3 separate regions of the Homo sapiens genome follow, and regions 2 and 3 are each linked to region 1. Evidence: fine-mapped expression QTL. A gene starts in region 1. Each other region holds a variant in brackets. All regions are shown on one strand. Distances are between the middles of the regions. Region 1 holds the start of COA1 (cytochrome c oxidase assembly factor 1). Region 2 overlaps STK17A (serine/threonine kinase 17a). Region 3 overlaps COA1 (cytochrome c oxidase assembly factor 1).

What was found.
Region 2: its variant is fine-mapped to the expression of COA1 in blood mononuclear cells (TOPMed, PIP above 0.99).
Region 3: its variant is fine-mapped to the expression of COA1 in whole blood (INTERVAL, PIP 0.99).

The regions. Positions count from the first base shown.
Region 1 is chr7:43,725,345-43,735,676 of GRCh38, reverse strand. COA1 (cytochrome c oxidase assembly factor 1) reads left to right here and starts at 6,154. Exons shown (of 6, transcript NM_018224.4): 1 at 6,154-6,248. RefSeq lists enhancers at 1-48, 554-633, 5,844-6,043, 5,410-6,138, 6,139-6,868.
Region 2 is chr7:43,611,712-43,622,043 of GRCh38, reverse strand. It overlaps STK17A (serine/threonine kinase 17a), which reads right to left. Exons shown (of 7, transcript NM_004760.3): 4 at 2,321-2,447. It also overlaps a transcript of COA1 not described here. Among named protein-coding and RNA genes, the nearest start is that of STK17A, 34 kb to the right of the region's middle. The variant C/T (reference allele first, on the strand shown) is at 5,141.
Region 3 is chr7:43,675,548-43,685,879 of GRCh38, reverse strand. All of the region lies in intron 1 of COA1 (cytochrome c oxidase assembly factor 1), which reads left to right. Among named protein-coding and RNA genes, the nearest start is that of COA1, 49 kb to the left of the region's middle. The variant T/A (reference allele first, on the strand shown) is at 4,536.

The DNA.
Region 1 (10,332 bases):
CTCTACTGATCTCTACTGATTTCTCTTCTTTCATTCCTGATATTGGTAATTTGTGTTCTCTCTCTCTTTCTTTTGACTGATCAGTTTAGCTACAGGTTTACCAATTTTATTGGTCTTGTGGGCGGAGGATCACCTAGGTGACAAGGCAAGAGACTAAAGGCACAAACTGTTTCAGTATAATAAAGAAAACAGTTAGAATAAGAATAGTCATAATACAAATTAGATATAGAGATGATCATGGACAATTATCAATCATTATTATAAACATTATTAATCATTAGCTTTTAATATTATTCTTTGTTGCATTACTAATATAACCTAGGAATAACCAGCGGGTATACGCTCAGGTGCTGAAGGGACATTGTGAGAAGTGACCTAGAAGGCAAGAGGTGAGCCCTCTGTCACGCCTGCATAATGGCCGCTTGAGGGTTCCTTGGTCAAGCGGTAATGCCAGTGTCTGGGAAGGCACCTGTTACTTAGCAGACTGTGAAAGGGAGTCTCCTTTCCTTGGAGGAGTCAGGGAACACTCTGCTCCACCAGCTTCTTGTGGAAGGCTGGATATTATCCAGGCCTGCCCGCAGTCATCCGGAGGCCTAAACCCCTCCCTGTGGTGCTGTGTTTCAACGGTCATGCTCCTTGTCTACTTTGATGTTCCTCCCATACTCCTGGTTCCTCTTTGAAGTTCGTAGTAGATAGCAGTAGAAGAAATAGTGAAAGTCTTAAAGTCTTTGATCTTTCTTATAAGTGCATAGAAGAAAACGCTGACGTATGCTGCCTTCTCTCTCTCTCTGCTTTGGCTACCTAAGAGGGAAGGGCCCCCTGTCCTATGATCATGTGACTTGCTTCACGTTGTCAACCACTTAGAAGATTCACCCTCCTTACCCTGCCCCCTTGTCTTGTATGCAATAAATATCAGCGAGCCCAGCCGTTCAGGGCCACTACCGGTCTCCGCATCTTGATGGTAGTGGTCCCCCGGGCCCAGCTGCTTTCTCTTTATCTCTTTGTCTTGTGTCTTTATTTATTACAATCTCTTGTCTCCGCACATGGGGAGAACACCCGCTAAGCCCCGTAGGGCTAGACCCTACAGGTCTTTTAAAAAAACCAGCTTTTTTAGCTGGGTGCAGTGTTGAGTGCCTGTAATCCCCAGCTACTCCAAAGACTGAGGTGGGAGGATTGCTTGAGCCCAGAAGTTTGTGACCAGCCTAGGAAACATAGCAAGACTTCATCTCAAAAATAAATAAACTGAAAAAAGAACTAGCTCTTTTACTTAATTGATTTCCAAAATTATCTTTATTATTTCATTTTCTATTATTTTTAATTTTCCCCCCAATTTCTTAAAGTGGAAGCTAAAATAATTTAACTTATACTTTTTCTTTTCTTATATTTTTATTCCTTATATTAAGAATGCAATGCTATAATTTTCCTCTCTAAAGCACTACTTTAACTGCATTCAATGCCTTTTGATATATATTTTTATTTTTATTCACTTCAAAATACGCCTGTTTCCTTTACCATTACTTCTTTGACCCATGAGTCAAAATGTATACTTAATTTCAAAAGAAGTGTGTTACTTAATTTCAAAATATTTGTGTTTTCCAGATATCTGTTACTAATTTATAATTATGGTAAGACAAAAAACTTTATACAATTTCAATGTATTTAAGTTTATCAATGTTTATGAACTGGCATAAAAATATTCTACACACTTAAAAGGTGCATTTAGCTATTTATGGAGTGTTCTATAAATATTAAACAGGTCAAGTTGGTTAATAGTGTTGCTCCAGTTTTTTATGCACTTACTGATTTTTTGGTCTAGTTTTTCTATTAATTGCTGAGAGATGAATGTTAAAATCTCCACTACAATTTTCAATTTTTCTTTTCTTTTTTCTTCTTTTTTTTAGATGGAGTCTCACTCTGTCACCCAGGCTGGAGTGCAGTGCTGCAATCTCGGCTCACTGCAACCTCTACCTCCTGGGTTCAAGCAATTCTCCTGCCTCAGCCTCCTGAGTAGCTGGGATTACAGGTGCACGCCATCATGCCAGGCCGATTTTTGTATTTTTAGAAGAGACAGGGTTTCACCCTGTTGGTCAGGCTGGTCTTGAACTCCTGACCTCGCGATCCGTCCACCTTGGCCTCTCAAAGTGCTGGGACTACAGGTGTGAACCACCGCACCCAGCCTACAATTTCCAATTTTTTGAATTGTCCTGTCAGTCTTTGCTTCACATTTATTGAAGCTCTGCTATTAGTTCCAAACAATTTTTTTTATTTTGAGACGGAGTCTCGCTCTGTTGCCCAGGCTGGAGTGCAGTGGCACGATCTCGGCTCACTGCAACCTCTGCCTCCCAGGTTCAAGCGATTCTACTGCCTCAGCCTCCTGAGTAGATGGGATTACAGATGCGCACCACGACGCCTGGCCAATTTTTGTATTTTTAGTAGAGATGGGGTTTCACTATGTTGGTCACACTGGTCTCGAACTCCTGACCTCGTGATCCGCCTGCCTTAGCCTCCCACAGTGCTGGGATTACAGGCGTGAGCCACTGCGCCTGGCCAGATTCATACAAATTTAAGACTGTTATATCTTCTTGATGATCTAACCCAATTATTATAAAATGTCCTTTATTTTTTGCAATCAGCATATTTGAACAGCTACAATTTCCTATAACAAAATTATAGGAGGTGCACATTATTTCCTATAACAAACATGTAGAGCATGTGCTTGGAGTACATGTAAAAGCAAACACAAAAGCAAAAAACAAAAAACATGTAGAGCAAGCATTAACTTTACATTAAACAGGACATATTGTAAGAGATAAATAACTTTTTCAGGGTTAAAAATCAGGATATCACAGGTGAATTTCTTGTAAACAAACTAGGCAGGACTGAATTTCATGCTGGTAGTAAGATAAGCAAGAAAGGACATTCATACCAACCTAGCTAATGTTAATTTTCTCAGTGTCTTTGAGGTAAATACTGTCTAACTTTTACTTATTTTTATGACAGGACATTATGGCACGCTCAATGCTTTGTTTTCTCAAAGCTCTTATGCCAAAATTTTCTTCTTTCTCTCAATAGGTGGATAGTTCCTTAACATGATAAAAGATGTCTACTTCAGTCCTTAAAACCAGCATCATGCTTAATGGGAAAATTCTAAAGATATCTCATTAAAGATAGGAATAAGACATAAAAGTCTACTGTCATTATTATTATTAAATATTTTACTGGAGATACTAGCCAAAACAATTAGATATGAGAAAGTAGAGGTATAAAACTTGGAAAGAAGTAGGTAAAACTATTTCAATGATAAGATTGCAATCTTAGAAATTCTACCAGAATGAACTCCAAACAATAAAGCAACTTAGTAAGGCAGTGGATCACAATATTAATATGCAGGAAATGATACTTTCATGTATACATACAACTACGATGTGTAGTAACCTCATTCAGATTTGATAGTTATAGGATCCTGCTGCTCTTGAGTGAATCTCAAAGCAGCCATTTAACCACTTAACAGTAGCCCTCATACAGCATTATAGTCAGCCCCTCCTCTCTTCACCTCCTACCCCTTCCCTGGCTCCTTAGTTTAAAAGTATCAAAACAGACCCTTTCTTTAAATATATAGAAAAAGAGAGGTAGAATGTGTATTTTGATGGGTAATTTTGGCTATAAGAAACAGAATCCCTGACTTAAGGTGAGTTAATAATAACTAAAATTTATTAAGCACTTAAAATACTTACAATATGACCAGCACTATTTTAACCCATTTAATCTTTATGGCATCTCTATCAGAAAACAGTAAGGATCCCAGCACTCTGGGAGGCCAAGGTGGGTGGATCACTGAGGTCAGGAGTTCAAGAGAAGCCTGGCCAACATGGTGAAACCCCTTCTCTACTAAAAATACAAAAATTAGCCAGGCGTGGCAGTGCATGCCTGTAGTTACAGCTACTTGGGAGGCTGAAGCAGGAGAATTGCTTGAACCCGGGAGGCAGAGGTTGCAGTGAGCTGAGATCATGCCACTGCATTCCTGCCTGGGCGACAGAGTGAGACTCAGTCTCAGAAAAACAGAAAACAAAAACAATAAGGAAACTTATTAGACATTCCTACAAGGCATTCAGATACAGGGTGAGCTCCAGGTTTGGAATGATGTCACCAAGGACATTGTTTTATAACTTGTTCAGTTGTCCTCAGCATTGGTCCATCAGTTTTATTCCTTGTGATGGGCAAGATGGCTACTAATGACAGTGTGGGATAGATGTTTCGACGTCAAGAGGACAGTATATCAGAAACTTTCTCCTGAGCATGAAATAGAGGTCCTTTCCTTCAGTCAGATTGCGCCAACCTGGGTCATATACTCGTTCCTTGATTAGCAACTATTTCCAAAAAAATTCTGTGTGAAGACTGGTTTAATCAGTATCATTTTGATTCTGGGAACAGGGCAGCTATCTGAATAAAATAAGGATTTTGGTACAAAGGAGTTAGAGGAAAATGAATATTGGATAGGTAACATTATTCACTATAGAGTTTTGTTTTTAATGTAAAATTTAGACGACAAAAAAATTCTGTGTGATGACTGGTTTAATCAGTATCATTTTGATTCTGGGAACAGGGCAGCTATCTGAATAAAATAAGGATTTTGGTACAAAGGAGTTAGAGGAAAATGAATATTGGATAGGTAACATTATTCACTATAGAGTTTTGTTTTTAATGTAAAATTTAGACGAAAACTTTAGCAGATTTAAGTCCAGTGATAGAAATGTTAAGTTCTGAGTTTTCAAGCAAATGGTCAGAAAAGCCTATTTAATGTTTTATTACTTACAAAGTAAACATATTTCTCTTTCTGGTACAGAACGGGAGCTAATTGATCTCGGGTTCATTTTCATGAACGTTGTATGAAATGCACATATACCAAACCTCATAAGCTTTTTATTAGTTGATTTATTCTTTGAAATATTAAGCTTGGTGTAAGGTATTATAACCTCAATCTCTTTGAAAATGTAATAAGTCAATAATCAATGTTGCATCAATGAATATTACTCAGTGGATGCCTATTTTATTTCTTCTTTTTCTCTAAGAACCATTTAAATAGTCCTTATGGCCGAGCACTTCACAATCTGATTAGTTTCTATTAATTCTTTGGAAAAGAAACATTCTGGGAAGTCAGAATTCAGCGGTAGGTTGCTTTGATAATGTGCTCATTTAGCTAGTGGATTCCAGAGTGATAGAATGTATGTTTGGCAACCTAATTGTTGTGGAGGAAGAAAAGAACTTCTGTTAGAAGTTTTTAAAAAAGTTTAAAAATTGTTTTTACCTCATCAAAAGTTTGATGTCTTGTGAGTTTTATAGCATGCATAATATATTAATGCCATACATGACACATGTAAATATATATATATTTTTTCTGATAGGGATGTGTGAGCAAGAGTTTAAAGAAGAATGCCCCAGTCTAAAGTTAATTAGTCTTGGAGTGATGGCTTCGCAGAGGAAAGATACTGGATTTCAAGCTTGACATTAAGGTGATAATAGTGGTGACTATGGAATAATCAATATAAAAATAATAACAGCTAACAGTTACTGAGCGCCTACAAACTGCCAGACACTACTCTAAGTGCTTCACATCCTCATAACAAATTTATGAGGTAAATGCTATTATTATCCACCAGCCTTCTGAAATTTTCTTACCCCGTTACTCCCTGGTGTTAACTGGGTACTTAATTTGTCGAATAAAATAAAATTTAGTGCTGCCAAATTTGTCAGCTGAACGGGGCGGCAGGAATTTCAGTGCTAGAGTGGGGGGCCAGACGGCCCGGGGCTTCGTGTCCTTGGAGGCCAGCGGAAGCGCCGCATACCTGTGAGGAGCAACGTGAGCCGGTGGCTTATATTTCCTGGGCTAGTGCTACTGGACTGAATGCATTTGCAATAACCGGACGCAGAAAAAAAAAAAAAAAGCGGGGACCAGGGGAGGCGAAACCCTTCCCGGCGCGAGTCCGAGCGTCTGAGAAGCAGAAGCCACACGTCCCGGCGACCTAAGTTCTGGATCAGCCGGCCGGAGGACCCGTGTTAGCATTTACAATCCGAGGTGAGCTGAAGCCTCCGGTTGTCCCGGTTCGACGCTCTAGCCCTGCGAGCAGCCGACGCCGGAAGTCTCTACTGCTCCCCGCTGGCGCGCAGGACCGCGGGCATTTACCCGTGCTTTCCCAAGCCTGGAAGAACTCGTCATGCTCTTTGTAGCGTGGTGCTTCTGTTGCTCACAGGTTAGTCTCCCGCGGTATAAGAGTCTCCGTCTTCCCCCCAGCAAGAAGCGTTTGTTCCTGCAATTCGGGGGGCCGCCTTTGCGCGCGGGGTGCGCTGCTTCTTGGAGAGTTCCCTCACGGGTCACATCGCGGAGGTTCGCGCCGGCGCCGGGTCGCGGCCTCCCTGCGCAGCTTCTTTGGCACCTGGTAACCTTCAGTGGCTCCGTCCGCTCGGAGTTAGGAGGCTGTGTCGAGCTAACCTTGACCTTGTCCTGCAGTTTTTGCTGACCATCCCCAACAGCACACTGTAAAGAGTTAGGGTCCTCTCGAAGAGTTGGGACTGGGCACTTTTGTTGGTAGTGCTAAATTTCAACACCCTGAGGAGTACGCTGCCCAAATTATTGTAGGAAAGAATTACCTGGTTTAGTGGTTATAATACTTTTTGTCCCCACCACACTTGAATAACAGAAAAACCCTCCCAACAGGGGCTGACTGCAAAAGTGATTTTCTGTGTAGGGGACATTGGATGTATTTATGTATATATCAGTGCCTATCAGTCTGTATGTGTGTTTGGGGGTGGATGCTGTGTAATTTAAAAAAATCTATGGAGATTCTGATAATTTGATAACCTGTTTCTCCGGTCTTCCCCTGATTCCTCCCCATTCTCCCCGGAGGGCTATTGCTTTATTTCTGAGGTGGCTCACGTTTGGATAGAAGTAGCAACTCTCCGCTTACACCTGCACGTTTAAAACGCATATCAGATTGTGTTATTTCTGTCCTCAGAATCTTCCTGGCCTTCCCGTTGCTTTCAGGATAATACACATTTCTTAGCCTAACTTCAAGGGCCTACAGGGTCTTGATTCTGCTGAGTTTTTCAGTCTTTGCTACTTTCATGGAAAACACACCTGCAGGTACACTCATATTATGCTCCCACCATGCCAGTCTACGGTAATTTAATAACTTTAGATATGGCAAAGTTTTATATGGTTTACTCAAGTTTTAATTTTTGTTCTAGCATTTAGCCAAAATCGATTGAATTCATAATATTGCTAGGCACTGTTTTAAAAACGGGATAAAATGAAAACAAAACAAAACACAAAACAAAAGTCTTCAGTCCTTTAAAAAAATAAAACAGCTTCCTGACACATAGTTCACCTACCGTAGAGTTCACCATTTAAAACGTAGCGGTGCCTCACGCCTGTAATCCCAGCACTTTGGGAGGCCGAGGCGGGTGGATCACGAGGTCAGGAGATCAAGACCGTCCTGGCTAACACGGTGAAACCCCGTCTCCACTAAAAATACAAAAAATTAGCCGGGCGTGGTGGCGGGAGCCTGTAGTCCCAGCTACTTGGGAGGCTGAGGCAGGAGGATGGTGTGAACCCGGGAGGTGGAGCTTGCAGTGAGCCGAGATTGCGCCACTGCACTCCAGCCTGGGCGAGAGAGCTAGACTCCATCTCAAAAAAAAAAAAAAAGAAAGAAAACCTAAAAGTAATTAGTACATTAGTACATTCACAAAGTTGTACAACCATCATCATAAAATATGCTGTAATCTTCTTCACCTTCATTAGTTGGTTTAATTTTCTATTTCAGACAGACTCCAATAAGTTATTCTTGTATTCTTTTGTTCATGTTTAATATGCTGCATTCAGTTTGTGAGAGCCATATTGGAACAATTGAACATTTTCATCACTCCAAAAGGAAACCCTGTACTTATTCAGCAGGCTCACCTGACTTCCCCATCCCCACTCCCCATTCTAAGCCCTAAGCAACTATGAATTGACTGACTGTATATTTGACTATTCTGGATTATTCATGTGAGTGAAATCATACAGCATGTGGTCTTTTTCAACTGGCTTCTTTTACTTAACATTCATGTTCATCTGTGTTGTATTTAATAGCATGTGTCAGTACTTTTTTTTATTGCTGGTTAATCTTTTATGGGTATTACCACGATTTATTTTCCATTAGTTAGTGGACGTTTGGATTGTTTCCACCTTTTGGCCATTATGTGTAATGCTGCTGTGAACATTCACCTACAAGTTTTTGTGTGGACATCATGTTTTCATTTCTCTTGCGTATGTGCCTAGGAGTGAAATGGCTGGGTCATATGGTAGCTCTGTTTAACATTTTAAGAAATGGTCAGACTGTTTTCCAAAGCATCAGTGTGCATCTTTTTAACATTCGCACCAGTAGTGTATTAGGGTTTTGATTTCTCACTCCTTGCCAACACTTGTCATTATCTGTCTTTCTGATTCTAGCCATTCCAGTGGGTGTGAAGTGTGTGTCATTGTGTTTTCATTCTTTTTCGTTGACATGTAATAATTGTACATATTTAGGGACTACAGAGTGATATTTTGATAAATGTATACAATGTGTAGTGATCAAATCAGGTAATTAGTATGTCCACCACCTGAAACGTTCATCTTTTCTTTGTGTTGCGACCATTAAAAATCTCCTAACTTTTTGAAAATATTATGGTTTCAAATCGTATTTCCCTGATGGCTAATGATGTTGAGCATCTTTTCAAGTGCTTATTGCCCATTTATTTATCTTCTTTGGAGAAATGTGTACTCAGATCCTCTGCCCATTTTTAAATTAGGTTCTTTTTTGTAATTGAGTTGCAAGAGTTCTTTATATATTCTAGATACAAGTCATTTATCAGATATGTGATAGTCTTTTAGATTATGCTACCGTTCTTTTAAATGAAAAGCACATGAGATTAATTTTTTGTAGCCCTGGAGACCTCCTTATGGGTATGTGGCTGTGGTTTAGAGAGTGATGGTTTTCCAACAACTACGTGGGAGGCCAGGCCCAGGAAAAATGCTGTGAAAGAACCCGTGAGGAGCATTTTAAGACTTGAAAAATGAAGCAAGGAAAAACTTTATAATTTGCCATTCCGTATGGAGTTTTGTCTTTATTGATTTTTAGGAGTTCTTTGTGTAGGGATTTAAGCCATTGACTGTTAGATATGTGGCAGATATTTTCAATCTATTTAGTTAACTTTGTTTTATATTTTTTACTATATTGTTTTACATTTTTGTGTAGTCAGGACTTTGCCTCTAAAAGCCTTCTGGCTAATAGTTTAGGATATTGTTCTTTAATTATAGGAGTTATAGAAACTGACATAGTAGTTCCCAGTTAGTGTGACATCTGAGTCCCTGGTGGTATATTTAGCCTAAGAGTGTTCATTGTTTCAGACATTGTTGCCTCCCTGTCTCTCTGCCTTGAAAAATGTGCCATGATCTGCTTCAACTTTGTTCATTTAACTCTCTATTTTAAACAGACTCCAAGAAGTTATTCTTTTATCCTCTTGTTCATGTTTCATATGCTGCATTAGATTTGTGAGAGCCATATTGGACAGTTGGTCACCAAATAGTAGGTACTTTTTTCATACTAGCAGGCATTTATTTGAAGATTATTTAATGTATGCAGAGGTTGAGTGTAGCTATTGTGTTCTGTATTGTTTGGGGCATGTTGGAAAAAGTAGTTTTATAAAATCCTATTAACATTGTTTTGTATTTTTTTAATTTTGTTGGTTAAAAGGCAGTAGTAGTAATATATATAGTATATATATAATATATATATTTTTTGAGATGGAGTTTCGCTCTTGGTACCCAGGCTGGAGTGCAATGGTGCGATCTCGGCTTACTGCAACCTCCGCCTCCTGGGTTCAAGTGATTCTCCTGCCCCAGCCTCCTGAGTAGCTGAGATTACAGGTGACTGCCACCATGCCCAGCTAATTTTTTTGTTTTATAGTAGAGACGGGGTTTCACCATGCTGGCTAGGTTGGTCTGGAACTCCTGACCTCAGGTGATCCACCGCCTCGGCCTCCTAAAGTGCTGGGGTTATAGGCATGAGCCATTGCGCCCAGCCAGTAGTAAAAGTATTTTTAGAAACTGAGCATTTTGAGAATCTAAGGAAAGTGATATACAATAGCTTCCAGAAAAAAATTGCATCTCTCTGTTTACATATAATGGCCAAGATTTCATTCTTTCCCCTTGGCTTGATTCCAGTTAGAACTGTGTGTTTCTTGTTTCAGTGTTTTGTCTTTTCTTTTTTAAAATTGTGATAGAATATACATAACATAAAATTGGCCATTTTAACT
Region 2 (10,332 bases), 110 kb after region 1:
CCCTATGAGGTCGGTACTATTACTAGCCCCTTTTTATGGACAGAGGAATCTGAGGTATAAAGAGATTTAAGGGCCAAGGTCACATAGATGGCAAGTACAGGGCCAGAACTCACACCAGTTTCTGTGTGTATGTAAAATGACTGTGGGAGGCATAAACTCACCTTTTAAAAGGTGAGTCACGGAAGGAAAAAGAGGAGAGTCCCTTTGTTTTTCTGTATTATGTACTTTTGAATCATTTTTAGTTTTTTTCTTTTTGGATTGAGCTTGTACTTCCATTATAATGTTTTGAGATGGGGAAAGGCTCTTGATAGAAAATTTAAAATTTACTAAGGAACAGAAAGCTCTAAAACAAATCACTAGCCTGGGCAACACAGTGAGACCCATCTTTACCAAAAAAACAAACAAAAAACTGGCCCGCTGTGCTGGCACGTGCCTGTGGTCCCAGCTACTCGGGAGGCTGAGGCAGGAGGAGCTCAAGTTGGGAGCTGCAGGAAGCTATGATGGTGCCACTGCATTCCAGCCTGGGTGGCAGAGTGAGACTCTCTCAAACAACAACAAAGAAAGCATTAAAACAAAACAAAAACCCACCTCATTCAGGGCAATAATTACTATTTTGATTTTTCAGCTCACAGACCTACATTCTGCAGTCTTGTGTATTTGAGCTTACAATGGTACCCATTAAATTTGGCTAAAACACTTGGGTTGCTGTTTTCCCTAAAGAAACACTATTAAGTCACATCCCCAAAACTAACTTAGTGGTCATGACGCATATTAGTCAGTGTACTGAAAATTAAGTATTCTGGCCCATTAAAATATATAAAAAATTTTAAAGGTTGTTTCTGTGCCTGTGGCATCTTTTATTATCTAATTAACTAAGGATCTTTTAAAAAATCTCTGAATTATTTTTTGAACTATCATTGCCATACAGGTTTGTTTTCTTCAACCCTATCGGCCCTCCTGAGTCTTTCTGTGCTCCGGATAGCTCTTTTCTTGTAACATCCTCAGTCCTTCAAGAACTACACACTCCTTTTACCCTCTTCTCTGAAAGGAGACCCTGCTCTCTTCATTCCCCCTCTTCTAGCCTGTATTTGCTCACTTCACACTTCTACCCTCAGGCACAGAGTCTTCCCTCAGGCCCAGGCCACAGCCTTCTCCATTCCTGCCACGGCCGCCCTCCTCTTCTCCCAGGTCTGCTGGCAGCCTAGGTGACTTCCACACTGATGTCCATGACCCAGACAGCCTACCTTCACAGCTTCTTGATTTCCTGGTCTAAAAAACTGCCTTTCCAGCCTTATATCCAAGGCCTCATAATTACAAAGAGCTATTTCACCACTGAAATTTTAAATATTAATATTCTTTTTTTTTTTTTTGAGACGGAGTCTCACTCTGTCGCCCAGGCTGGAGTGCAGTGGCACGATCTTGGCTCACTGCAAGCTCCGCCTCCCAGGTTCACGCCATTCTCCTGCCTCAGCCTCCCGAGTAGCTGGGACTACAAGTGCACACCATCACGCCTGGCTAATTTTTGTATTTTTAGTAGAGACGGGTTTTGCCATGTTGGCCAGGCTGGTCTCAGATTCCTGGCCTCAAGTGATCTGCCCACCTTGGCCTCCCAAAGTGCTGGGATTACAGGCGTGAGCCACTGCACTTGGCCTAAATATTAATAATCTAATCTCTGGTCACAACCTCTCAGTTTCACAGCCTTATTCTACAGATACCTTAAAAAGACCATCAAACTATTAATCTTTCAAACTCCAATTTTCCTCAGTCTATCAAAGAAAGTAATAGTTGACTTCTTTGATGATACGCCTACACCCATGGAGTATCATCATTCAGCTGCTTTCTTGCTGCTACCTTCAATGTTTAAGCTCCTTTTTCTTTCTGCCAGAAGCACTCAACCATGGATCCAACCAAATGCCCTCTCTGCTCCACACTTCTATGGAGCCTCAGACTTGGCAATTCCTTTGTCAATGTTTGTTATCAACCAGAACATCCTTAAAGGTCCTTACTTGTTAAATATCCTCCCACCCTCAGATAAGCTAATATCCTACTTTGTTAAGAAAATCCTCTCCTATTCCTTTTAGAAGTAATCCCTTCAAATTCTCTTAGCTCTGTAGTGAAGAGATAGTGAAGAGATCACCAATTTGGTATCTTACTCTTGAACGTTTTCCATTGTAAAATGTAATCCAAAGGAATAGATCTCTGATGGTAGAATTTCAACATAGTAGATAGCTGGCTCCACTATGAGTCATGCCACATGGACAAGTCCCCTAATGAAGGTGATGCCTGACCCCAGAACAAAACTACTTTTATGAATACTTACCCACATATTCAGGGGTACCCATAATTTCTCGGAGCTCTTCACTGTTCTTCAATATTCTTGAAAGGCCAAAATCAACAATCTTAATGTCACCCAATGGAGATTCACTTGTCAACAGAATATTCTGAGGCTAAAAGAAAATACACCCCCGCAAAAATCAATATAACTATGATTAAGTACACAAAACATGCAGCCCATAAAACATATTTCACCTATGAAACTGAGACTGAGGAATTTAACAGTAAACAGTCATTTGTTAAAGAAATATTTTTACAATTTATTGCCTATGTATAAGGCAGCAGGCCTGTACTCTCTTGTATTTTCAATCTCTTCCCCTACTCTGGCTCTTCCTCAGCATATAAATATGTTTCTATCCCTACCTTATGGAAACCATTCCCCATGATCCTGAATCTCCTTGCATGCAGCACGCTTGCTCCTACTATTCCCTCAAAGCTCAGCTTCTTGAAAGCATGGTCAAGCACAATTGGTATTGTTTTCTCAGTGCAACTAAATCTCTTCTGACCCCTTGACTGAATCTGCCTTCATTAAGGTCACAATAACTTCAATAATCAAAGACCCACCAAATCCCGTCTGTGTCTTTCAGGGACTATTTTGCATGCAATGATTTCTGTAGCACTGGGCACTGTCAAGCATCCTTGTATTGTTGAAATTCCTCCCCATTTTCTCCACCTTGGGTCTCTTCCTTCTTCTACAGATCCCTCACAATTTTCTCAATGTTTTCCTTCTGTCCTCCTTTTAAATATTTGTGTTGTTCAGGATCTCTCGCTGCATGGCCCTCTTCTCCCACCACTCTGCATTCTATTTTGGAGCGATTTCATCTACTTCCAAAGCTTCAGCTGCCACTTACATACTGATGACTTCTACCCTAAGTTCTCTCTGGACTTGTGAGTGGGGATATGTGGGGTGAGGACATGTACAGTAATGGGAAAGAGCTCCCCAGAGCCACAGAATCAGTGAGGTTCATATCCATGGAGTCATTTTTACCCAGTGGAAAATAACCTAAGATACTTTCACATAAAAAGACAAGCAAATATATTATGGACTAGAATGTAAAATTCATTAAATTTTTAAAACACGAAATTTGAAAGGAAAGTTTGTGCTTGCATTATAAAGGGTCCTCACTTAATGTTTTCTGCCATTAAGAATATTTCCAAAGGTAAGCTGAGAAACACTGGTAAATTACAAATACTTCACTCTAACACCCAGTGTTTTAAGATTGGGCCCCTGCTTCCTTTTCAAGATTAATCTGTCACGGCTCCAAAGGCAATCTGTGCTCCAAATCAAACAGTCTGTAATCCCTAAATAACACAGCTACTCCCACATCTCATGCCTTTACACACGTACTGCCTTTGTTCAGGACGCCCTCTCCCCTTTTCTGCCTGACAGATTTATTCTCATCCCTCATTCCATGCATGATGGGTCTCAATAAAGAACCAATTCCTCTGTAAAGCCTGCCCTGGCCTCCCCTGCTCCTTCCAGGGAGGGCTTAATGGCTGCCCCGTCCCTGCTCCACAGCATGGTGTACACAGCATGCTTACTCTATTGTTCTGTTAGCTGTTTGTTTCTGTCTCCATCACATTGGTCCTCTAGATGTATAGAATGAATGTTCACATTTCCTTTCCTTCCATTCATATTCTGCCCCTCCATCTGACTTCTGTCCTCTCATTCCACTACAAATCACAAAATCCAGTGATATTCTTCAATGCTTTTTTCTGGACCCCTCCCTTAGCAGTGTTTGACAAAGTTAACCACTCCTTCCTTGTTTATATGTTATCTTTCTCTTGGCTCCCATGACAAAACACTGTCCTGGCTTTCTTCCTATCTCTGGCTGTGTCTTCCATCTCCTCTGATGGGCCACCTTCTTTTACCTGGTCCACTGGATGCTGGGTTTCTCAAGGCTTGATCTTGAGGCCTTTCCTCTTTTTACTCCAAACTCTCAGCTTGCATGATCTGCACCCAAGGCTTAAATATCACCTACACCTTAAGACTCACAATGTTTTTCTCTCTTTCAGACCTCTTCAACCAGCTGCTTACCTATTATCTCCCCTTTGATGTCTCAAAGGTACCTCAAATTCAACATGACCAAAAACAGACTCCTATTTTCCTTCCTAAATCATATTCTCCCTATGCCAATGACAGGCGTCTCAGTGAATGCTATGATCATCCCTCAGAATAGGAGAGAACACTAACAATCATCTTGGCCATTCCTTTCCTCCCCGCTCTTCCATTTAGCTAACATGTCACCATAGTTGATTTTAAATACTAAATTCCAAGCATTTCTAGACTTTGCCTATTTCTCTCCATCTACGGAAAATTAAAGCTACCTTTCTTGCTCTATTGCAATGGCCTCTTCAAAGGTTTGCTAGGATCTGTTTTGCCCACATTGAAGCCAGAAGGTTCTTTTGTATTATATAAATTGGATCTGTTGTCCCCTTTCCTAAACCCTTCCACAGCCTCCCATTGCTCTTAGGTAACCTCCAAACTCCTTCGCATGGTGTGCATGTCCTGAGGTCCAGCTTCTGCCTAACTAGCTCTCCAGACTCATCATATGCCATGATCCCCCGGCTCCATGAAGCTGGGTCCCACGGGACACTTTCCAGTCTCATACTTGCCATGCTCCCTCTCACAAGAGTGAATTTGTATATGGTATTCCCTCAGTCTAGAACGCTTTTTTCTGTTCTTCTTTGCCTAGTCTCAACTTGGTGAGAAGGCCTAAGATGGTAGTGAAGCAGATTACAACAATTTCCATAGATGAGAGGGGCTACAATATGAAAAACGAAATTGAGGCATAGATGGTCCCTC[C/T]TTTTTTGAGACGGAGTCTCACTCTTTTGCCCAGGCTGGAGTGCAGTGGCGCGATCTCGGCTTACTGCAAGCTCCACCTCCCAGGTTCAGGCCATTCTCCTGCCTCAGCCTCCCGAGTAGCTGGGACTACAGGAGCCCGCCACCACGCCCGGCTAATTTTTTGTATTTTTAGTAGAGACGGGGTTTCACCGTGTTAGCCAGGATGGTCTCGATCTCCTGACCTCGTGATCCGCCCGTCTCAGCCTCCCAAAGTGCTGGGATTACAGGCGTGAGCCACCGCGCCCGGCCAGACGGTCCCTCTTTTTAAAAAGGGTCTTACCTTCTATCCAACCATCCTTCCTACCCTTTTCTATTATGAAAATGCCCGTAGGTTTATCAGTCTGAATTCAGAGAACGGGAAGAATCTACAGCTTCATGAGGACAGAAGCCACAGTACTGATTACTCTTTTGTCACTGTGATCAGTGCCTACCACACATTTATATTTGTTGGGTGAATGAATGGAAGAAACATAACTATAAAAAAATTAACAGGGTGTCTATTTTGTGTTAGGACTAGTGGTAGTATAAATATTAGCAATAAGAACGCCCTACTGTCAGAGTTTATAATCAAGAGAAAATAGATGAACCTGCCAGGCTCAAGTCACTCTTCTGTGAATTGCACCATGAAAGCAATATATACAAAGTGCTCAGGCGATAAATATATCAGAGTGATTAATTCTGCCCTGGAAAATTACAGAGGAGATATGTGAGCAGACCCTGAAGGGTAAAAAGATTTCCTCATTTTTTCAACAAATATTTATTGATTGCCTAATGAGCTAGGCCCTGGGGAAATAACAGAAAACAAGACACCAGTCCTCTCTTTTGGAGCCCTGCATCTTAAGACAAATAAGTACACCTCAGGTCGCTTTAAGCACTATGGGGAACTCAAAGCAGGGTGATGGGCGAGAGTGGTTGCTTGGGGTGTGTGCATGGGCATGTTATCTTTAGGGGAGTCAGAGAAGGCCTCTCTAAGAAGGCAACCTGAGGGAGGAGAGGACAATGTTAAAAAAGAGCCAGTCACAGCTCAGTGTCCTGGAGGGGTTGGAGTAAGCAGGAAGCATTCCAGGCAGAGGGAAGAGAAGTATAGAGGCCGTACTGCTGTGGAGCATCTGCAGGAAATCCTGTGTGGCTGGACGACAGCACAAGGCAAAAGGGGTACGAGTGGTGGGAGGCATGAGGTTGGAAAGGAAATGGCTAGGAGATCACAGGGCTTTGTAGGCTATTCTGGAGTAAATGGCAGAAGGCAGGCCACGTTTTCTTTGTTAATTAGCTTCTAGCTAATTCTTCACGAAAAAAACACCTATGTACCATCATGACTATGAGTCCTCAGACTTTTCAAGGCAATTTTAGTTTTCGTATGTTAATAAAATACTATAGTACAACAAAAGGGCTGGGCGCAGTGGCTCACATCTGTAATTCCAGCAATTTGGGAGGCCGAGGTGAGTGGATTGTTTGAGCTTAGGAGTTCGAGACCAGCCTGGGCAACATGATGAAAACCTGTCTCCACCAAAAATACAAAAAATTAGCCAGGCATGGTGGTGTACACCTGTAGTCCCAGCTACTTGGGAGGCCGAGGTGGGAGGATCACTTGAGCCTGGGAGGCAGAGGTTGCAGTGAGCCGAGATAGTGCCACTGCACTCCAATCTGGGTAACAGAATACGACCCTATCAAAAACAAACAAACAAACAAAAAACAAAACAAAAACTATAGTAACCACAAAATGTCTTATTATTCAGGCAAATTTGATAGGAGGGCTTTGGTTCAGTGATACATATTCATAATTGAATGTTTTGCCCTTTTGAGTACACGCAAAATGCCAGGTGAAATACTGCTAGGGAAAATCTTCACCAAATCTTGAGATTTTCTTGTGATTAGTAAACATGTACATTCTATGAATGTTCTTAAATACCATTTGTTCCCTTAAAATAGTTTAAATGTTTTTCCCTTTTATGTATTTACACTTTATATTCCCTGAGAAATGCTTTCTTTAGTTACTATGCAAAAACTAATTGGTTTGGTGGTAATGTTGTAAATCCTAAATCAGTGTGATCAAATTATTAAAATCTTATTGTATGAGAAGTCTAGGCCCTGTTACATGCATCTATGATACACCAATGTGAGAGACTTTCTAAAAATGAAGTTAAACAACTGAGAGAGAGGTTGCTAGAATAAACACATTTCTCATAAAATCAGAGCTATTTCATGGGATTTCAGTTAATATTTATTATGTGGCCTTTACCAACTAACTGTGCCCAATTTTGACCACAGGGCTATTTTTAAAAATAGACTTTGCTTCTCTAAATAAAATATATATACAATTACAGGACTATAAGCTCTGTTAGTTCTTCGATGGTGAAATATATCTACTTCCAATAAGCCGAAATACATGTCCTGAAAACAAAGCTAAGTACCTCAGCATTTACAATTTAGTTAAACTTCCTTTCTAGGGAATCCAGTTCATTATAAAGAAGTTGTGGCACACAAAATCTAGTTCTATTTAAAATATATGAATCCCAGGTAGTAAGGGAGAGAAAGAAGCAAGGTCAATCAATAGAGAGGTGATAACAGTGGAATAGGCAGAAAACCTGCAGACGGTCCGTAAATAGATGGTGGCTGTAGGGAAGTCTTTTATTTATCTCGGTATCTTCATCTTTGTACATAATCCATTTAACGTTTACTGAACAATCACCACTGGAGAAGATTTGGCGGCTAAGATCATTGTAAAGTTGAGGTTAACCTGCTCAATAAGGCTTAGGGTGTCATGGGCAGGGTTTTAAGGAACATTTTATCAGACAATTAAAGTTCTAGTATATTAACTATTAAAACCCAGGTTAGAGTAGAGAAATAGGTTAATAATCCCATCTAAATTAATTTGGGGGACTGTTTAGGAATGTTTTTATTACCCCTGCTTTCAAGTAATATACTGATGCTCAAATTTAAATCTCATATGGAAAGTCCCAGCTTCTGGCTACTTTTTTTGAAATTAATTTTTAGAAATTAATGTTTTAATAAAAAAGTTTTTGAGACAGGATCTCACTCTGTTCCCCAGGCTGGAATGCAGGGTGCAATCATAGCCCACTGCAGCCTCGAACTCCTGAGCTCAGGCAATCCTCCCACCTCAGCTTCCTCTGTAGCTGGGACTAAAGGCGCGTGCCACCATGGCTGGCTGATTTTTTTAATTTTTTGTGGAGATGAGGTCTCACTATGTTGCCTGGGCTGGTCTCAAACTCCTGGGCTCATGTGGTCCTTCTACCTCAGCCTCCCAAAGTGCTGGGATTACAGGTGTGAGCCACCACACCTGGCCTTCTTCTAGTCTACTTTTAACCATGAGCATAACTGGGTGGAAAAGTTAGTGATAGAATCCTAGTATAGTTGTCCCATGGTATCAGTGGGGATTGGTTCAGGGACTCCTTGCAGATACCAAAATCTGTGATGCTCAAGTTCCTGATAGGAAATGGTACAGTATTTGCATATAACCTAAGCACATCCTCCTGTAAACTTTAAATCATCTCTAGGTTACTCAGAATAGCTATTATAATACCACACATCACCTCATTTGTGTGGATTCAATGAAATACTTGGTGGGGGGCCAATTCAAGTTTAGCTTTTTGGAACTTTGTGGAATTTTTGCACCCTGAATATTTTCAACCTGTGGTTGGTTGAATCCATGGATGCAGAGGGCTGACTGTACTAACACTGCTGAAAGACTGAACCAGTACAACACCATTTGAAGAAAAAAGAGCAATAGATTTTAAGACCAGATTTCTTTGTGCTATTTTTAGTCAGTCCTCCCTCCCTCTGACAGGACTAAAACCAGGCCGCTGTACTGAATGACTAATTCACCAAATTATTGAGACTGTTTGGGTACTTTTAGTTGGTTTTGTTCTGACTTTGCCAGGGTTGTTGTTTCTCAGATTTGCAATTTCTGCAACATTTTATATATTAAACGAATGGGTTTTCTCTTAATCATGGCTTGTCTTTTCTATTTTTGTGGCTGTATGGACTCATACTTTTACAGACTCCTAAATCTGCATCTGCTACTCCCTCCCCCACCCCAAGAACTTTCCCAGCTCTATTTAAGATATTTGGCTGACAGTCTTCAGTGAATCAGTCTTTTGGCAAATTGATCATTCAGGCTCTGCACCAAAGCTAAGCAGTGTATTTCCCATAGCGTCAATTATATCCTTAATAGAAGCAACTATAACAGTTGTTTTAACTTCCAACTAACTTCTGTCACAGGGACAGGAGTTTCCCATTTTAACCAGCATGGAGACTAAATAGCCTAATAATTCAAAATTACCATACATATTGGGATTATCAGTTTTTAGAGAATGAAAACATAATATATTTAGCTTTGAGGCAATGTGGGAAAATAATTTCTTAAAAAATAGCCTAGTCTTTCAAACGCTTCTAGAGACCAAGAGTCAACATTATGAGCACACACTGTCGAAGACAGAGGACAGCAGACTCACTTCATCCAGACTCACAGAGGCCAATTGGAAATGACCTTTTAGTAGAAATCACTCCCGCATGCATGGTTGCCATACCAACCCCATCTCTATCCTCTCCCTCCAGTAGTTGACTCAGAGACATGTCTGACTGCACATGGAGGGGCATGAAGGCAGAAGGAAGGCTGAGAACCCTTTGGACCACTTTGTCTTCTAGTTCCTCTGGGTCGAGGAAACATGGAGAGTCCAGTTTCCAACATCAAAGGCCTGTCATCGTCATCAAGGCCTCTACTGAATCTGGAAAGAATTCTAAACCAAGTGTATTAGAGAGAAAGGAATATGATTGATACTGAATATACTGAGGAGAAAGGGATATAATTTCCTTGTGTAAATACACACTTAAAGTTGGTATTCAAGAACTTAATATTCACCTTTGATGCTCTCAAGTAACATCAAAGATCCATGACACATGGTGCTGACAACCTGTTTGACTTGCTACTTAATTAGTTCTTGAATAGTCACAGGTTCAACTGTCATAAGCTGAAAGCTCATTTCCTATAGGTGCAATGCTATTTAAATTGGGGTTCTCTTCCTGGAAGTCCATCATAAGACTAGTAAAACATCATTAAAAAATAAAACAGATACACGATTTTGCAAAGTTAAGAGTGTAAAACCAAACATGAAAGAAGCTACAGCATAAACATT
Region 3 (10,332 bases), 50 kb after region 1:
TTGGTGACTTTGAGGTGTTTACAGTAGTGTTTGGAGGAACTCTTAATGGGGAGGTATTTGTTCACAACCCAATTAATAACCCTACCACTTAAAAAACATCAGTCTTCTTGGCTGCTAATGAAGGTTGTGGTGTTAATTTGGTGAGACAGTTTGTACCTTGCTTTTGTCTGGGTTTGTTCCAGGACTCTGATTCTGACAGATTTAACACTGGAGAGGGTCTTCATAGCCTGATTCTCCAGCTCTCTCAATTCTACTCTAGTCTTTCCAAATCATTTGAAATCAGCAGAAGAATTAGCAGTAAGTTTTGATTAAGTACTTGTGATATAATCAATTAATATTTGTTTGGAATAGCTCCCCAACTTTCCCTACCCACCCCACCGCAAACCAAAAGATTCTGGAAACTTGCTCCTAGAATTGCAGCTTTCCTTCTGATATGAGAAAATTGTTGATATATATGTAAAGCATGTAGATCTTGTGTTGTAGATGTTTTAATGACACGTCAGAAATTAAAATCTCATTTGGGTTGGATCTGTAATGTTGGACACCAGATGATGGTGAGAAGTCAAGTTTGAGAGTAGGATGTCTATAGGGCACCCCTTTGCCTCTTCCAGAGCATTTACAATGATTTTTGTGATGGAATTTGCCACTACTGGAAATGACCATGGTGGAGAGGTTATAAGAGACACACATTTTATTTATTCTTTTCCTTTTTTTTTTTTTTTTTTAAGAGATGGGAGTCTTGTTCTGTTGCCCAGGCTGCTGGATTATAATGGTGCAATTATGAATCACTGCAGCCTCAAACTCCTGGGCTCAAGTGATCCTTCTGCCTCGGTTTCCCAAAGTATTGGCATTACAGGTGTGAGCCACTGCTCACTAACTAGTGAGCTAGTTTTCACTGCTAGAAAAACTAGCCTTGTTTTTCTTGGTAGAGAATCTCTCACTCTCTTCACTGATGGCTTCAGAGGGAGATGAATGTGAAGATAATAAAGTCTAAAGTTTCTTCAGAGCTCAGTCTGTCTCTCTGGGGTCCCATTGCCTATTTCAGATTCTGAATGGTATTTCAGGCTACCCCAAAAGTGTCAGATCTGGTCAAGAGTGTTGTTCTTATGTACTATAGAGTGTGCCACTTTTTGAGCAAGCAGTCAAGTATGGTAGTTAAGAGCATGCACTGTGAATCTTTGCTATAAGATGGTGGCGTCTTGTACTTTCCAGACATGTTATTTTCCACTTTCAACCCCTTGCTCTTTATAGCCTTCATTGAGAAGAGGGGTCTCTATCCTTTCCTCTTGAATTTGCACTGGCTCACGACTAGCCACAACTAGATTATGACCAATAGAATATGGTGAAAGTAATGCACGATGACTGAGGCTAAGTCAGAAAAGGCAGTGCAGCCTTCACCTTGTTTTCTGGGACACTTGCTTTTGGATCTCTGTGCTGCCATGTATGATGCTTGGCTATTCTGAAGCTGCAATGCTGTGAAGAAAGCTCAGGCTACAGAGAAAGGCTATATGTAGGACCCTAGTTCAGGGGTCCCCAATCCCATTCACCCACTCCCGGCCGCACAGCAGGAGGTGAGCTCTGCCTCCTGTTAGATCAGCAGCTATATTGAATTCTTATAGGAGTGCGAACCCTGTTGTGAGCTGTGCATATGAGGGATGTAGTTTGAGTGCTCCTTATGAGAATCTAATGCCTGATGATCTGAGGTGGAAGGTTTTATCCCAAAACCATCCCCCTGCCTCCTCTGTGGAAAAAAAATTACCTTTCTTGAAACTGGTCCCAGTGTCAAAATGGATGGAGACTGCTGCCCTAGTTGACAGCTCCAGTTTAGATTCTAGCCGACAGTAGCATCAACAATCGCACATGTAAGTGATTTCCTCAAATGATTCCGGTCCCATTGAGTCATCCCTAATTGTTGTGTCTTTTCAGTTGTGACCTCAAACATTGTTCCTTACCTTTGTGTTTGCTCTAAATTACTGACCCACAGAATTCATGCGTATGATAAAACTGTTTTTTCAAGTTGCATTTTGGTGACTTTCTTATGCAGCAAGAATAAAAACTTTGGCAAATTCTTGACTTTTGTGTCCCCTAGTTTCCAATCTTTAAAATGGTGATAATAATAGTACTTCTTCAGAGAAATGAGTTAGTATGTGTAAAGCACTTAAAACAGTACCTGGCACATAGTAAAGGTACTAAATTTGAACTACTTACTGAGAGAAATTCATTAGACTATTAAATGTTTTTTTTTTGAGACAGAGTCTCGCTCTGTCGCCCAGGCTGGAGTGCAGTGGCGCAATCTTGACTCACTGCAAACTTCACCTCCCAGGTTCATGCCATTCTCCTGCCTCAGACTCCCGAGTAGCTGGGACTACAGGTGCCTGCCACCATGCCTGGCTAACTTTTTGTATTTTTTTAGTAGAGATGAGGTTTCACCGTGTTAGCCAGGATGGTCTTGATCTCCTGACCTCGTGATCCACCTGCCTCGGCCACCCAAAGTGCTGCGATTACAGGCGTGAGCCACTGTGCCTGGCCAACTACTAAATGTTTTTGGGAGCATAGTTATGTTAAAAATAGTGAGCTCAGGGTTACTTTACTAATGAAATGATCATTATGATATGTAAAAAGGAAAAAAAACACAACTATATGACTTTTCTTAATTTGAAGTTATTTTCCACATTTGAGGAGTTAACGATTCTGATAATTGTTCTCAAGAGTATCAGTTGGTGGCTGGGCATGGTGGTTCATGCCTGTAATCCTAGCACTTTGGGAGGCCGAAGCTGGCAGATCACTTGAGGTCAGGAATTTGAGACCAGCCTGGCCAACATGGTGAAACCCCATCTCTACTAAAAACCCCATCTCTACAAAAATTAGCCAGGCGTGGCGGTGGGCACCTGTAAACCCAGCTATTCAGGAGGCTGAGGCACAAGATCACTAGAATTTGGGAGGCAGAGGTTGCAGTGAGCCAAGATCGTGCCATTGCACTCCAGCCTGGGCGACAGAGCAAGACTGTGTCTCAAAAACAAACAAACAAAAAACCCCAAAAAACAAACTATCAGCTTGTATAGGTAGGCTGTCTCCTCAAAATAACCTTGGCTTTCCTTGCTTGCCTGTTTATAGCTACCTATGAATTAAATGCTTTTGAAATGCATTTGTCATTTCCTTGATTATCTAGAATGACAAATTCTGTGTTTACTCGATAGAGTAGAACTTTAAAAAAAATCATCCTAAAATGTCATGTTCAAACTTTAAGTGATGTGGAGAAGAAATCAGTGTTTATATCATTATGTATAAAATCATTATAGACATTTATACTTTTCAGATGTTTACAATAATTATGTCTCAATTTTCATCTTTCTGTTGTGAAAGAATTCGGATTACTTCACTTTCTGTAATAGTACCTGTCACCGTGACATTTTAGTTGACCATGTTCAAACAGAGATCAATATCAACTTCTTTGTTTAAAAAATGTACCTATTGAAAAATATTTACTTTAGGCTAGCCATGTATGATATGCTTTCTTCCAGTTTCTCATTAAAATATGCGTATAGTTCCATAATGGCATTGAGAAAAGTAGTGATCAATAATTTCTCAGTTTTAAAGTTGTTTCTACTAACTACTTACTACATTGGAGTAGACTAAGAAAGTCTTAGTGGTCTGTTTATGGTTTGACTTCTAAAACAGGAGATTAACGTGGGAAGTGGGTAGGAAGAGGCTTTGATCTATTCCTGTTGTTCATACCTTGGAGACATGGGTTACCATGAATGACTATGGGAACTTGCACTATTTCGTTCATATTATGTATTTTATTACATATTAAAAGCCCATTAACCTCCTTAGAGATTTTTCTCTCTCCCAACTCTTCCAAACCCGCACGTTCCACACTATTTTTTATACATCTATTCAGAGACTAAATTTCCAATGTGCAATATGGAAGAGAATGAAAAGAAGGTGTTAGGATATTACATTCCAGGGATGTGATGTAGCAGTAGATGTGGTGTTAAGAAGAACCTTAAAAGGAGTGTGCTTTTGGGTTTTCAGGTTATCATTTATTTTCTGTTAAAAGACAAACTACAGAATGTTCCTGTTGATGTAGGAATGAATTCTCATAATATGAGAAGAAAGGAATAATAGATTTTAAATCAGCCCAACTTGGTTGTACTGCCTGCTTAGTACTATAAATTCAGCCATGGACTGTGTGTGTCAGCCTGTACACTTAAAACCTAACCAAATTAAGTGTGAGCAAATTTTCACCATCCACATTGATAGTGATGGGAATCAAGGGCAGTCTACAATACCCTGCCATTAAAAATTGTACCTTATTTTTGCAAGGATGATTTTCATGGGGACTATGAAAGAAATCTGTGTGAAAGATATCTCCGTAAAAGAAGGGAACCATTTCCCCAAAGATGCGGAAGAAAATCTTAAAAATAATATTGAATATGATTTATTACGATGTACAAAAGATATTTGTGAGAAGTGTCAGATTTTATTCTTAGTAACAGAGCAAAAAATATGACCTCTAGGAAACCAAAACAAAG[T/A]TATAACAAAAAATCAGAATGAGATTTTAAAAGGAGCTGGAATAAAGATGACCAAAAGAAAACAGTGACAACAATCTAAAAATGCAATAGCCAAAATCTGTAATGGCAGTTGCACATAGCAGAGCTGATCCTGCAGAAAATGGAGTCAATCCTATATACGATGAATGGGTCAATCCTATAGTATTTATTTGAGATTTTTTTAGGAGGAGAAAAAAATGACAGAAATGATGAGGGTAAAAATGACAGATACTGAAGACAGAGAAGTGCCATACTGATGAATAAGTTCCTAATGGAGAAACCAGAATAAATGGAACAGAAGCAAAATATAAAAGCAGAAGGAAACTTTCTTGAGCTGAAAAGTACCCCCCTCCCCAGAGACAGGGTCTCACTATATTGCCCAGGCTGGAGTGTAATGGGGCAATCTTTGCTCACTGCAACCTCTGCTTCCTGGGCTTAAACCATCTTCCCATCTCAGCCTCCCGAGTAGCTGCAACTACAGGCACACGCCACCATACTTGGCTAATTCTTTTGTATTTTTTGTAGAGATGGGGTTTTGCCATGTTGCCCAGGCTGGTCTCGAACTCCTGGGCTCAAGTGATTCTCCTGCCTCTGCCCCTCACAGTGCTGGGATTACAGGTGTGAGCCACCATGGCCCAGCCACTTCAGCTGAAAAGTTCTGAAGCTGTAGTTCCACAGCGTAGGCTTATTGTAGGCAAAATTAATGAAAATAAATCTCTGTCTGTCTCAATTCTGGTAGCATTTATAATTTTTGGAGATAAAGGGAAAAACTCATAGATTTAAAAACACATAGGCTACTCTAATGATATAGAAGTCAGTCTTACTTCATTGCAGATTTCTTTTTATTTATCCTGCAATGCATTCATTTGGCTTCTTAAATCTATGATTTGGTAATTAGTTCTGGAAAAAGCCACTAACTGATAAAGTGTTTCTTTTCTCTATTCAGTTTTTGAAACTTTAATTAAAGACGTTTTGGGCCCTCTTTTATACCCTTTACATTTCTTATGCTCTCCTCCCTACTTACTTTTTTTTTTTTTTTTTTTGTCTCCCTGTCCCAAATTCTGTATGGTAACTTCCAAGTGTGTGCTGGTGAAATGGCTCTCCGGGGAAAAAGAAGCCCTGATTTGTAGCATTTGTTGATTTCCATAGTATAAATATCCTTATCAAGGGTAGTTTCAGGCAACCAATTTGACTTTACTGATGCAGAATTAGGAAGAGCTACACATAATTGGTTCTTGAAAGCTTATTCAAACTACTTCCAGCATATCTCTAGACTTGTCTTTTGTCTTTCCATTATTTATTATCTCTGAAGGTGAATCTAATCTGTTAAACCTTTCCATTCAGTTCTTAGTTGGAGTTATATTTTATTTTTAGTTCTAGAGTCTCTATTTTTTCTTTTAGAAATCTGTTACTATTTATAGTGTTTAGTTCTCTGCTAAATGTTTCCAACCTGTCATTTTATTTCTTCTGTCACAGAAAACACATAGAATCTGCATCTGATAATCCACTTTCTAAGGTTCTTTCCTGACCCCTTTTCCTTTCTGCTGCTTCTTATTCCTACATTTCTTGCATACTCCACTATCCTTGACTGGGGCCTGGATATTGCATTTGAAGAATTATTTATAAGACTGATTTTAAGTCCACAGCGTAGGTACTTAGACAGTGTGCACTTGTGTCTGACCGAAACTTGGGAGTATTCTAGTCCAGGGGATGATTACAGACCCAAGTTTGAAGTTTGAGAAAAGCAGTGTGATGTTAGACCATAATCTAGTTCATGTCATTCTCACTGTGAGGATGTGCCCCTTTAGGATTCCAGTTTATTGTGAGGAGAATCTCAGATTAGATGGCCCTTGTTGTGTGGCCCTCAGCTTTATTTCTATCTTGGTCACCCTGAGAATCTTTTAAAACATAGGTTCTAGTTTCCCATGACCAATAAAGATACTTTAGAGGAAATGTGGTTTCAGAACTTGCTTTTCATGCTGAGTTTTCATTCTCCTTGTACTTTTTTTTTTGTGGTAAAATATAACATAAAATTTAGCATTTTTTTTTTTTTTTTTTTTTTGCAATGGAGTTTAGCTCTTGCCCAGGCTGGAGCACAGTGCTGCGATCCCGGCTCACTGCAACCTCCGCCTCCCGAGTTCAAGTGATTCTCCTGCCTCAGCCTCCCCAGTAGCTGGGACTACAGGCGCACGCCACCATGCCCAGCTAATTTTTTGTATGGGGTTTCACCATGTTGGCCAGGCTGGTCTCGACCTCCTGACCTCAAGTAATCAACCCGCCTTGGCCTTCAGAAGTGTTGGGATTACAGGCGTGAGCCACCACGCCTGGCCCTCAAGATACTTATAAATTTTCCTTTTGATTTTTCTTTGACTTAAAGGTGGAATTGGTGGATCATATGGTAATTCTGTGTTTAATTTTTTGAGGAACTGCCATATTTTCCACAGCAGCTGCACCATGTTATATTCTCACCAGTAATGCCATAATGGTTACAGTTTCTCCACATTCTAGCCAACATTTGTTATTTTCTATTTTTTTTTAAATAATTGCCATTCTAATGGGTGTGAAGTAGTGGTGTCTTATTGTGGTTTTGATTTGTGTTTTTCTGATGATGTTGAGCATCTTTTCATATGCCTATTGGCCATTTCATATCTTCTTTGAAAAAACATCTGTTCAAATCCTCTTCCCATTTTTGAATTTGCCTATTTTTTGTTGTTGAATTTTAGGAGTTCTTTATATATTCTATATAGTAGTCCATTATCAGATGTGTGAGTTGCAAATATTTTTTCCAGTACTGTGGGTTGCCTTTTAACTCTGTTGATAGTGTTTTCAGTTTCGATGTAGTCCAGTTTTGTCTATTTTGTTCTTTTGCTGCTTGTGCTTTTGATATCATATCCAAGTAATCATTGCCAAATCAAATGTGACAGAACTTTCCCCATATGTTTTCTTCTAAGAGTGTTATACTTTTAGCCCTAATGTTTATGTATTTGATCCATTTTGAGTTAATTTTTGTGTATGTTGTAAGCTAAGGGTCCAACTTCATACTTTTGCATGTGGATATTTATTTTCCCAGTGTTATTTGTTGAATTCTCTTTTTAGTTTTTACTTGGTAATTTCTTACTATCTTGTAATTTTTCAGTTCTTTTGAAAAGATGTTTTAAAATACTTTATACAAATTACTAAGTTGTTTTCAACAGGAAGGTTCATCTCTCAAACCCAACTCACTGTTATTAGTAATAGGAAAAATTTAGTGTTTCAAATCAACTTGATGAGAACACATGTGCTACCTGAATCCTCTAGGAGGGAAATTGCCTGTAGTCAGTGTTGTTAGTTTTTAAATACTGTTTGGTTGCAATTTTCATGGGAAAAAGGTACAGCTCATTAGCACATATCTGTATCTATATATGTATATATTTTGTATAACTAAATTCAGTAGGCTGAATTTCATCTTAGATTATAAACCTTTTTAAGTATTAAAAGACTTGTTAGAGGAGCAAATTACAATTTTTTTTTTTTTTTTTTTTTTTTTAAGACAGAGCCTCCCTTTCTCACCCAGGCTAGAGTGCAGTGGTATATGATCTTGGCTCACTGCAACCTCCTTCTCCTAGATTCAAGCGATTCTCTTGCCTCAGCCTCCTGAGTAGCTGAGATTACAGGCATGCACCACCACACCCAGCTAATTTTTGTATTTTTAGTAGAGGTGGGGTTTCACCATGTTGGCCAGGCTGATTTCGAACTCCTGACTTCAGGTGATCCACCCTTCTTGGCCTCCCAAAGTGCTGGGATTACAGGCGTGAGCCACTGAGCCCAGCTACAGAACAAAGATACAATTTTTTGTCAAGGATATGGGAATCATTAAAGCATTCCTGTTTCTCTCTTTTATTTGGCAAACCTCTGTTTTATTATCCCAAAACTTACTAAATAATAATTTTTCCTTTTTTGGTCATTAAATAAGTTCATACACCACATATATTAAATAAACGGTGTTAGAGTTTGTCCTTCCTTTTATGTTGTTAACTGAAATGGGTTTCTTTCCCAGATGTTTTAAAAGAGCATTTGTTGAGGAATAATGTAGTTTTTAAAGACTCCACAGTTTCTTTACCAATGCTGTAAAAGTTATGTTTAGAAAGAATTGAGTATTTTTCTCTATAGTATTTCCATGAACTTTCTTCTAATATTCAACATGAGAAATCTGAAAATGCTTACAAGAAAAACATATAGAAAGCAAAGAATTCTTAAGGCCAAGAAAGTGGAACATTAAGCATTTTGATCTGTTAGGCATCGTACAAAGGATGAAGAGACCCACCCCAAGGGGACTTAACAGTTGGCAAGGACAACCATAGTATCATAAATAAATTAAGCTAGAAAAAATACTAATGCATACTGTACCTCTATTATTTTAAGAGTGTAGAGCTTTCTTACACAATTCTTAGTGATAAATTCTCTTTGCTACCATTGACCATATAGTTTAAAATTTTCAGTTATTTTTTTCAGCCAACTTTGGATGTGTTCTGAAGTTTTTTTTTTTAAATTGACACATATTAATTGTACATATTTATGGGGTACAATGTGATATTTTGATACATGTGTACAATGTGTAATGATCAAGCCATGGTAATTAGCATATCCATCATCTAAAACACATCATTTCTTTTTGTTGGGAACATTCAGTATCCTCTTTTTTGCTGTTTGAAACTATATATTATGTTACCTATAATCATCCTACTGTGCTTTAGAACACTAGAACACTAGAATCTTCTGTTCTACTTTTTACTTATATGAGATCAACTTTTTTTAGCTTCTGCACATGAGTGAAGATGTGGTGGTGAACTTTCTGTCCTAGCCTATTGCACTTAATGTCTTCTAGTTCCATCTGTGTTGCTGTGAATGACAGGATTTCATTCTTTTTTTGTGGCTGAATAGTATTCTATTGCGTATATATACCACATTTTCTTTACCCATTATTCTGTTGTTGGACACTAGGTTGATTCCATATCTTGGCTATTGTGAATAGTGCTGCAGTAAACCTTATTTCTTTTTATTGTTTGTAAGTTTTTCACCCAGTAGGAAATCTGTAAGGCTTAGGTCTTCTATTTAAAATGTCACCTATTTAATCATGTTTAATTAGGTTGATGGAGGGGCAACTTTCCTATTTTTAAAATTTTGAAAACAAAGTGGATACTAATCGTACTTTCTTAAAATGGTATGCTGCTAACATTTTAAATTTAATGTTTTAAGTTGTATTTCTTTTACGAGATTTCTTTATTAGTAGCTACTTTGTTTATGAGGGAGCAGGGATAGGATTCCCATAAGTGAGAATAAGAAGCAGTTATCACCGATGGGTAGTAATTTTTAGGGGTCTGTTAAGGGTCTCTTAATATTAAAGGAATCAGAATAATACCATAATTCTTTTATTTAAATAGTACAAGTGAGCCATTGATTAACATCTGGCTTAGATGTTAATCTAGTGTTAGAATTAGATGTTAGATGTTAGAATTCAGTATAGGATCCCTTGATAAGATTTTTTAATGTAAGTTCTCTTGAACCAGTAGCACCTTTTTTCCCTTCAAAGTGTAATCTTGACATCTCTCTACAATTCAGAGTAGTGAATGGTCCTCAGGTGTTTAGCAGGTAATTTGTTACATGTAAAAATTAAAGTTTGTAATTAATATACCTCTATGCTACAAATTAGGGTGGATTTACACTTACTCTTTTTTTATTTTATTATTATTATACTTTAAGTTTTAGGGTACATGTGCACAATGTGCAGGTTTGTTACATA